Regions from separate parts of the Homo sapiens genome. Here region 1 is linked to region 2. The links come from fine-mapping of genetic effects on gene expression. A gene starts in region 2. The other region holds a variant in brackets. All regions are shown on one strand. Distances are from middle to middle. Region 1 overlaps UBE2R2-AS1 (UBE2R2 antisense RNA 1). Region 2 holds the start of PRSS3 (serine protease 3).

What was found. PIP is the estimated chance that this variant, and not a neighbour inherited with it, causes the effect. A credible set is the group of variants that fine-mapping cannot tell apart.
Region 1: its variant is the best candidate, but not a certain one, in a credible set for the expression of PRSS3 in whole blood (TOPMed, PIP 0.86).

What each region holds. Positions count from the first base shown.
Region 1 is chr9:33,746,673-33,751,058 of GRCh38, forward strand. All of the region lies in intron 3 of UBE2R2-AS1 (UBE2R2 antisense RNA 1), which reads right to left. It also overlaps a transcript of PRSS3 not described here. Among named protein-coding and RNA genes, the nearest start is that of PRSS3, 47 kb to the right of the region's middle. The variant G/C (reference allele first, on the strand shown) is at 2,496.
Region 2 is chr9:33,792,947-33,797,332 of GRCh38, forward strand. PRSS3 (serine protease 3) reads left to right here and starts at 2,615. Exons shown (of 5, transcript NM_002771.4): 1 at 2,615-2,667; 2 at 3,697-3,856. The coding sequence starts at 2,628. All of the region lies in intron 3 of UBE2R2-AS1 (UBE2R2 antisense RNA 1), which reads right to left. RefSeq lists an enhancer at 3,164-3,664.

The DNA.
Region 1 (4,386 bases), 46 kb before region 2:
GTATCTACCCAGAAGAAAAGAAGTCATCATATGAAAAAGCCACTTGCATCTGCTTGTTTATAGGAGCAGAATTCACAATTGCAAAAATATGGAACCAGCCTAAATGCCCCTCGACTGACAAGTGGATAAAGAAAATGTGATATATTTACACCATGGACTACTACTCAGCCATAAAAAGGAATGAAGTAATGGCATTTGCAGCAATTTGTACGGGAGTTGGAGAACATTATTCCAAGTGAAGTAACTCAGGAATGGGAAACCAAATATCATATGTTCTCACTTATAAGGGTTTGCTAAGCTATGAGGACGCAAAGGCATAAGAATGATATAATGTGCCAGGCGCAGTGGCTCACACCTGTAATCCCAGCACTTTGGGAGGCCAAGGCAGGTGGATCATGAAGCCAGAAGATTGAAACCATCCTGGCTAACATGGTGAAACCCTGTCTCTACTAAAAATACAAAAAGTAGTCGTTGTGGCACGTGCCTGTAGTCCCAGCTACTCGGGAGGCTGAGGCAGGAGAATCACTTGAACCTGGGAGGCAGAGGTTGCAGTGAGCTGAGATTGCACCACTGCACTCCAGCCAGGGTGACAGGGCAAGACTCTGTCTCAAAAAAAAAAAAAATAAAAAAAAAAATATATATAATGGACTATGGGGACTCAGGGGTAAGTGAGAGGAGGGTGAGGGATAAAAGACTATACACTGGGTACAGTGTACACTGCTCAGGTGATGAGTACACAAAAATCTCAAAAATCACCACTAAAGAACTTATCCGTGTAACAAAAAATGACCTGTTCCCCAAAAACTATTGAAATTTTTAAAAATGTAAACGTTAGCCATGCGTGTTGATGTACACCTGTAGTCCCAACTACTTAGGAAGCTGTGGCAGGAGTATCTCTTGAGCGTTGGAGGTCAAGGCTACAGTGAGCTATGATTGCACCACTGAACTTCACCCTGGGCAACAAAGTGAGACCCTGTCTCAAACACACACACACACACACACACACACACACACAAACTGGTTTTGTCCTGGTACCTGATTATTATAATTTGAAGCAGAAATTATTTTGTTTAGATTTTTTAATATTAAGAAGCATCTCGGCCAGGCGAGGTGGCTCACACCTGTAATCCCAGCACTTTAGGAGGCCCAGGTGGGCAGATCACCCGAGGTCGGGAGTTCAAGACCAGTCTGACAAACATGGAGAAACCCCAACTCTACTAAAAATACAAAGTTAGCCGGGCCTGGCGGCACATGCCTGTAATCCCAGCTACTCAGGAGGCTGAGACAGGAGAGTCACTTGAACCCAGGAGGTCAAGGCTGTGGTGAGCCGAGATCGAGCCATTGCACTCCAGCCTGGGCAACAAGAGCAAAACTCCCGTCTCAAAAAAAATAAATAAATAAAAGCATCTCTACTCACGATTGAACTATACAATTAAAAGGTCACACCTTTGTTTCACCATGGTAGGCAAGGTAAATATTAAAAAAGAAAATGGCTGTCCATAAAAGGGATCTGGTGACAGAGGATAGCCTCTCCCAGGGTAACAGGCATCCAGGACTCCACTCCATCAACGATTTCTAAAACAAAGGTTGTGAGCAAGTGCTAGGATGAGACGTGTGATTAAGTTTCTGAGCTGACAGCAAATTTAAAAGATGCCCTCCCAGCTCCTGGCTGCGGCCCATCCTCCCTCTAAGGTGCACAACTCCATTATGCTTTTAACTGATGACACTACCTCTTGGCCATTACCACCTCCCACCAGATCCCATTCACTTTGTTTTACCAGGGAAAGATCTGCTCCAGCTAATGCTTTATCCTTCACAGTGATTTTCTTTGACTTTATAGAAAGGGAGAGCCATTTGGTCAAGAGGCTGCCCATCAGATCCTGTGTCCTTCTGCACTGCTAATATCTATCTGTGGCCCTGCTTTAAAACCCAAATACGAACATCTCTTCCATGAAGCCCTTCCTGATTGCCAGTGCCCTCAACAGTGGGATAAACTGCCAGGCATCTTGGAGATCTAGACCCGTGGTTCTCAATCCCGACTTCCCCCGGCCTCCTGAGAAGCTTTTAATAGGTGCATCAGCCCTGGATTCTTACCAGTAGGTCTGAGAGGGAGGCTTAGCGCTTGTGTTCTTTTAATAGTGTGCACAGGGTTGACGGGAAACACACACACACTGTGCAGAACCATTCCACGAGGCTGTGTGTCCGGAATTGGTTCCCTCCAATGGGTTCCTGGTGCCGCTGACTTCAAGAATGAAGCCGCGGACCCTCGCAGTGTTACACTTCTTAAAGACGGTGTGTCCAGAGTTTGTTCCTTCAGATGTTCAGATGTGTCAGGAGTTTCTTCCTTCTACTGGGTTCGTGGTCTATGCACGACTTCATGAGTGAAGCCGCAGACCTTTGCAGTGAGCGTTACAGCTCTTAAAGGTGGTGCGTCCGGAGTTGTTTGTTCCTCCCGGTGGGTTCGTGGTCTGGCTGACTTCAGGGGTGAAGCCGCA[G/C]ACCTTCACAGTGAGTCTTATAGCTCTTAAAGCCACAGTGAGTCTTATGGCGGCTCCAGAGTTGTTTGTTTCTCATGGTGGGTTCCTGGTCTGGCTGGCTTCAGGAGTGAAGCTGCAAACCTTCACCATGAGTGTTACAGCTCATAAAGGTAGTGTGGACCTAAAAAGTGAGCAGCAGCAAGATTTATTGCAAAAGGGGAAAGAACAAATCTCCCACAATGTGGGAGGGGACCCGAACGGGGAAGCTGGCCGCGATGGCCAGCCTTTATTCCCTTATTGGCCCCGCCTGCATCCTGCTGATTGGTCCATTTTACAGAGTGCTGATTGGTCCATTTTACAGAGTGCTGATTGGTCCGTTTTTACAGAGTGCTGATTGGTGTGTTTACAAACCTTTAGCTAGACACAGAGTGCTGATTGGTGCATTTACAGTCCTTTAGCTAGACAGAAAAGTTCTCCAAGTCCCCACCAATTAGCTGGACACAGAGCACTGATTGGTGCATTTTTACAGAGTGCTGATTGGTGTGTTTACAAACCTTTAGCTAGACACAGAGCGCTGATTGATGCTTTTACAATCCTTTAGCTAGACAGAAAAGTTCTCCAAGTCCCCACCAATTAGCTGGACACAGAGCACTGATTGGTGTATTTTCACAGAGTGCTGATTGGTGTGTTTACAAACCTTTAGCTAGACACAGAGCGTAGACACAGAGCGCTGATTGATGCTTTTACAATCCTTTAGCTAGACAGAAAAGTTCTCCAAGTCCCCATCAGACCCAGAAGCCCAGCCAGCTTCACCTCTCAGTAGCTTACAGAAGAGGACCCCGCTGCCACAGCACAATACCACAAAGAAAGTCATGCGCTCCTCAGCAGGAAGCCCCCTTCTCCGGGACAGGGACTTTGTTTCCTTCTCAGCTCTATTGCCAGCACCTAGAACTGTGCCCACCTGTCAGATCTGTTATCAGATGGGAACGTGGCAGATTTGTTGAATGAATGAAGGAATGAATGAACTATGTGACACTCAAACTTAGCCACCAAACTTAAACTAGAAAAACTGGGTTGTGGTCCCTGATGGACCGTTGGTGCCTTCTTCCTTTGCTGGACGGTGATCTGTGGCTGTTTCTCCGGTGTGTTCGCAGTGGTTGCCTGGCTTGGTAACAAACACTCTTCAGAGCCACAGCCTGTGCTCGGGCTCCTCGCCGCCTCCCAGGCCCTGCGATCTCTTTGCATCCCAGGAGGTCCCGGTTGGTTGCAGTCCTCCTGGGTGACTCAGGAACCAGCCTCTCCTGAAGCACACAGCCTAGGGAGTTCCTGGGGCCAGAGACATCTCCAAGGGAAGGTCAAGGGCCTGGAGGATGTGCGGACCTGACGACAGATGCCCCGCACGCTGGCCGGGACCGGGAAGGGCGGTCAAGTGTGGAAAGGGTCTGGCGGCTGCCAGGCCTGGCAGAGTGGAGCGGGGCGGGGCGCAGCGGGGCGGGGCGGGCCTGGAGCTGCACCCGCTTCTGGGTGGACGCACTTGGCGAGCGGCGCGGGATGCAGACGGCTGCGAGGCGCTGGGCACAGGTCAGACGTCAGTACCCGCAGGGGGCTTGAAACTGGAGGAGGGCTCGAAGGGAGAGGGAGCCCCGCCAAGGAGCGGGGCTGTGATGGAGAGGGGGTTCCGACTCGCATGGGACCTGCGGGGGAGGGTACGCGGACAGGGAGGGGATACCGACTGGGAGGGGCTCAGGGACAGGGATGGAGGCTCCTCTAGGGGAGGACGGGAGGGGATGGAGGGCCCTGGTGTCGCAGAAGCCCACCTGGGGCCCCCTCCGGGCTGCGGCACCGATGCGCACACTACTCCCACCGCCCCCGAGTGCCTATGTCCGGCTGGCCGCGGCCCTGGAATGAATAT
Region 2 (4,386 bases):
TGTCCTCCAAATTGAGCTTGGGCAGCTGGATCTGAACCTATCCTACACATCTGAGTCTACAGTATGAGGTAACAGTCTCCACCTATAGCTATCTTCTCTGCCTGTAAGGTCATTCCTTTTTGAAGAAAGCTGACCTCAGACTATACTGTGATCATTTAAGGAAGAGCGCAAAATACTGGAGAAGGCTAATCTTCAAGCTCTAGATACAGAAAATCCTCATATTCTTGGGTGTTCCTTTCAGACAGAGTCAGAGCCACAAGCACTGATCCAAAAATCCCGTTCTCCAAAAAAAGTTTCCATCTTCTGCCAAGGTTCACCTCCCTATTTAGTGCACACTGGTGTCTACAGTTGCTACAGCAAGAGCCTTTCCTTATCCTCTAAGGCAGGAGTTGTGTGAAGACCCCATGACAAGGGGACAAAATGAAACAACATGTTTAGGGGCAACACAGGAAAAACCCATATTATCAATGCTCCAAAACCTGGATACCTCAGGCTTGGCCAGTCATTTGTGAGCAGAGAGGTGTGTCATCTACATGGCAGTCATGGCCTGGATGGGTCTGGAACTGTGGCAAGGGAAGTCTCTGAGACAAGGTGCCAGGAGAAAGATGAATTCAATCATCTATTTCTGCCAGGAAGAAAAGCAGGAGGAAGGAATCAGATGCACAGTTTGTCCTCTGGGGACCTCTGCCTTGATCCTCAATAAATCTCCTTTTAGATGTCACCTGCAGCAATTCCCACAGTTCACAATGATCTCCATGGCTTCCGTTGGCCTTATGGTGAGCTCTGCCAAGATCTGTATTCTTGGGCAAGACAGAATCCTTCTGAATCTCAGTCTCTTCCTCTATAAATGGAAATAATTTTGCTCTGCACAAATCACAATTAGCATGTTTGTGGGAAGTCAAACTGTGAAACTCAGCATAACTGAAAAGCAATGTACCACTGTTGCTTATGTGAAAACTCTTGTAAAGCTGTCAGGCACCATGCACCATCTAAGTACAGCAGTGTTAGGTATGAGCCCATCAGTGATTAGAGGGGATGTGGGGTGGAGAGCGGGTCTCTGAGCAGTGGATCTCCTGGCTTTGGGGAAGCTGGCTCGTTGGCCATGCCAGGAGCTGAACCTGAAGGTACTCTGTGTGTCCTCTCAACTCCACGGGCCCCACATTCGCATTTTTTCCAATTCCCTCTGGTTTCCATTTGCTTCCTCCCTCTAGCCCCCTGGCCATGTCCGATCTCAACACGAAGTTTCTGAGCTTTTCTCATTTTGTTCACCATCTCCAGAACATCTCTGCTTCTTTTACTTTTCAAAGAATTTAAACTTGAACTCTGCTCACTCCTGCCCATCACCAACCTGAGCTCAGAGTTGCTGAGAAGGGAAAGCACCCTCATAAGGAAGCTCCTCCTTTCCTTACATCATTAGACTTGATCACAGACAGCATCTCCATCTCCACACTACTCTGGCCAGGTTGTGCCTCAGTCAATTACACAACTGTGTCTTAGTAGCCTTGGTAGGGCCCAAATCAGGATATTCTCTGGGAAGATTCACTTGATACTAAGCCCAGCATAATCTCACTGCATCTAAAATAGAAAATTCTAGACCCACCCCTCCACATCTTCTTATTGATCCCAATATGTGACCCATTTACCATGTGCTAAAATCTCTACCTACTGCTGATTCTCAGATCAGATGGTAACCCAGATTTACCATGGTCCAAACTCTGACATCTGATCAGGGGCATGTCATTCTGGTTCAGGCTGTCAGCCCTGAGCAGGTGAGTCAGTTTGCATCACCCTAAGTGCAGGTTGCCAGGACAACCGTGAGGCTGCATAAAAAGAACCTATGACAGGATGCACATGAGAGAGACAAGTGGCTTCACATTGAAGAAGGGGAGGAGTGCGCCATTGGTTTTCCATCCTCCAGATGCACTGAGTAAGCTCCTACCTAACCTGTGTCCCCTCCTTCTTTGAAACACTTCCCATCCTTTTAAGCCTTGGTAGGAAGGAGAGCCATCTGGAAGCCCAGAATCCTATGGAATGCTAAGTCTCCCTTCTCCTTACCCCTTAGTGTTGGAATTCTGGATACCCAAAGTCTTGGATTTGACCTTTGTGCACAGTGACTGCAAAGAAGCATATTCATATTCACAAAAATGAGCCTTAGATAAGACTTTCCTCCTCTCGTGGGGGCTCCAGGAAACTGAAAAGCCAAGCTTGTTACCAATGCTTGCCCTTCCTTAAGTACATTATTAAATACATCCCCAATAGTTAAAAGGACTCCTAGACACCCAGGCCATTCTCCCTCCTTCTAACCCTCATCTCCTCGGCCTACGAAAGCCCAGCTGTGTGATCCGGGGATTGGTTTCCCCTGTCTTCCCCATCCCAGCATCCTTCCAGGAAATAGCCAGTCTCCCTCTCTGCTCTCAGAAGGCAAGTTTCCTTATCACCTGTGAATCACAAACCCACAGAGTGGCCAAACGTAGCCGAGCTGATGCAAGACCCTGGCAAGGGGAAAGCTGCAGGTGTGTTTGTGCTGGGAAGAACTGTGACCCTCACCTCACAGACACCTCCTCTCCTGATTCTTGGAAGGGTATAAGGACAGGCCTTCCACCACCAGTCAGGCACACTCTACCACCATGAATCCATTCCTGATCCTTGCCTTTGTGGGAGCTGCTGGCGAGTTTCATGACCTGCCTCAGGCCCCACCCACCCCCTTTCCTGGCAGACACATGCCCTGCCATTCTTGCCACCTCTCCTCTTTTGACTGCGCTCTGATATTCTATTTCCTCCATCTGACATATCTCCTTCCCATCCTCCTTGGGCTCTCTTTAAGCCTCACCTGTTTCACCTTTTCCCTCATTTCACTCCCACCACTGTCATTCATCCATATCCGAGCTGTGGTTGGAGAAGCTGGGAAGGGAGACCAGGTGGGGCTGGCCCATGAAATGAAGTGGCAGGCTTCAGGCTTGGCTCCAAGAGCACCAGTATAGCACCACTATAGCTGCTCTTAACCTCGAATGCACCTGGGGAGGTTCAAAAATTACTCATGCCAGAGATTCAACTCTAGAAGTTCTAACTTCATTTGTCTGGGGTGCAGCCTGTGTACTGGGCTTTTAAGCTTCCCAGGTGATTTTTAACGTTTCCAGGCATGCCGCCAAAGTTAAGAATTGCTCTTCTATTGGCCAATAACAAAGTCTACCTTTGTTATGCCAAAGTGAGCCTGGGGCTGCCCTCAACTCTGCCCTCACTGCACAGATCTGAGCTATGGGGGAAGCTAGTCATGGCCAGGTCTACCCAGACAGGGGGTTTTCCTAGCTTAGCCAAAGTATCCTGACAATCCAGGGCTCAAATAGCCAGGGCAAGTACACAGGTGATGAATAAAAGAGAGAAGCACTCAGTGGGTGAGACAACAACATACCAACTGCTACCCCACTGGAAGCATTTTGAGGACATTCCTTGCATCCTCAGCCTGGTGTCCCCAGGAGAGATCTGAGCCCCTGCAGGGTACCTAGCTACGTGCCCTGCAGACACAGAGACTTGGGAGCCACATCCAGTGATGCTCACCAGGGGTGGCAGCGCTCCCTCCCTTGCCTGGCCTCACTGGGCTTGTTAAGGATTTCTAATTGGCAGGAAGCAACCGCAGGCTGGGAGCACCACCCCTAACATGCTACTGACTTGCCTTCTCCCTTCCTATTTCCACTCCAGTTGCTGTCCCCTTTGACGATGATGACAAGATTGTTGGGGGCTACACCTGTGAGGAGAATTCTCTCCCCTACCAGGTGTCCCTGAATTCTGGCTCCCACTTCTGCGGTGGCTCCCTCATCAGCGAACAGTGGGTGGTATCAGCAGCTCACTGCTACAAGACGTAAGTGTGGGGCCCCTGACTGCAAAGCTCCCAGCCAGGCTGCCTGGGAGAGCTTGGCTTCAGCCCAGGGAAGTACTGAGGTTGGGTAAGACGGATGGGAGAGGTGGTGGAAAAGAAAACTTGTTGACAGCAGCTGACTCTCCAGAGCAAGGCCAATCCATGAAACAGCAAGGGTTGTGGTCATAAAAGCAGGCAGGGATAATCTTGGAGTTGTCAGAGCTAGTGACAAAAGCAGGCAAGTACCTTTTGCTGGTTAGCTACACATTAAAGCGACCTAAGACAGAGTTTTTGAAAATACTGATGCCTGTGTCCTACCCCAGGGCAATTAACTCAAACTTCTCAGGAAGACAGTGTGAATACCAGTGAGTATTTAACACTCTACCTCTGGTAACTGTAGAGTGTATAGACAGAGCTGAGAACCGCTGCCTACACGAAGAACTCTCAAACCTGAGTATGCGTCAAAACCACCTGCAGGCTTATTAAAGCACAAATCACTGGGTCCCATCCCCAAGGTTCTGATCAGCGGGTGG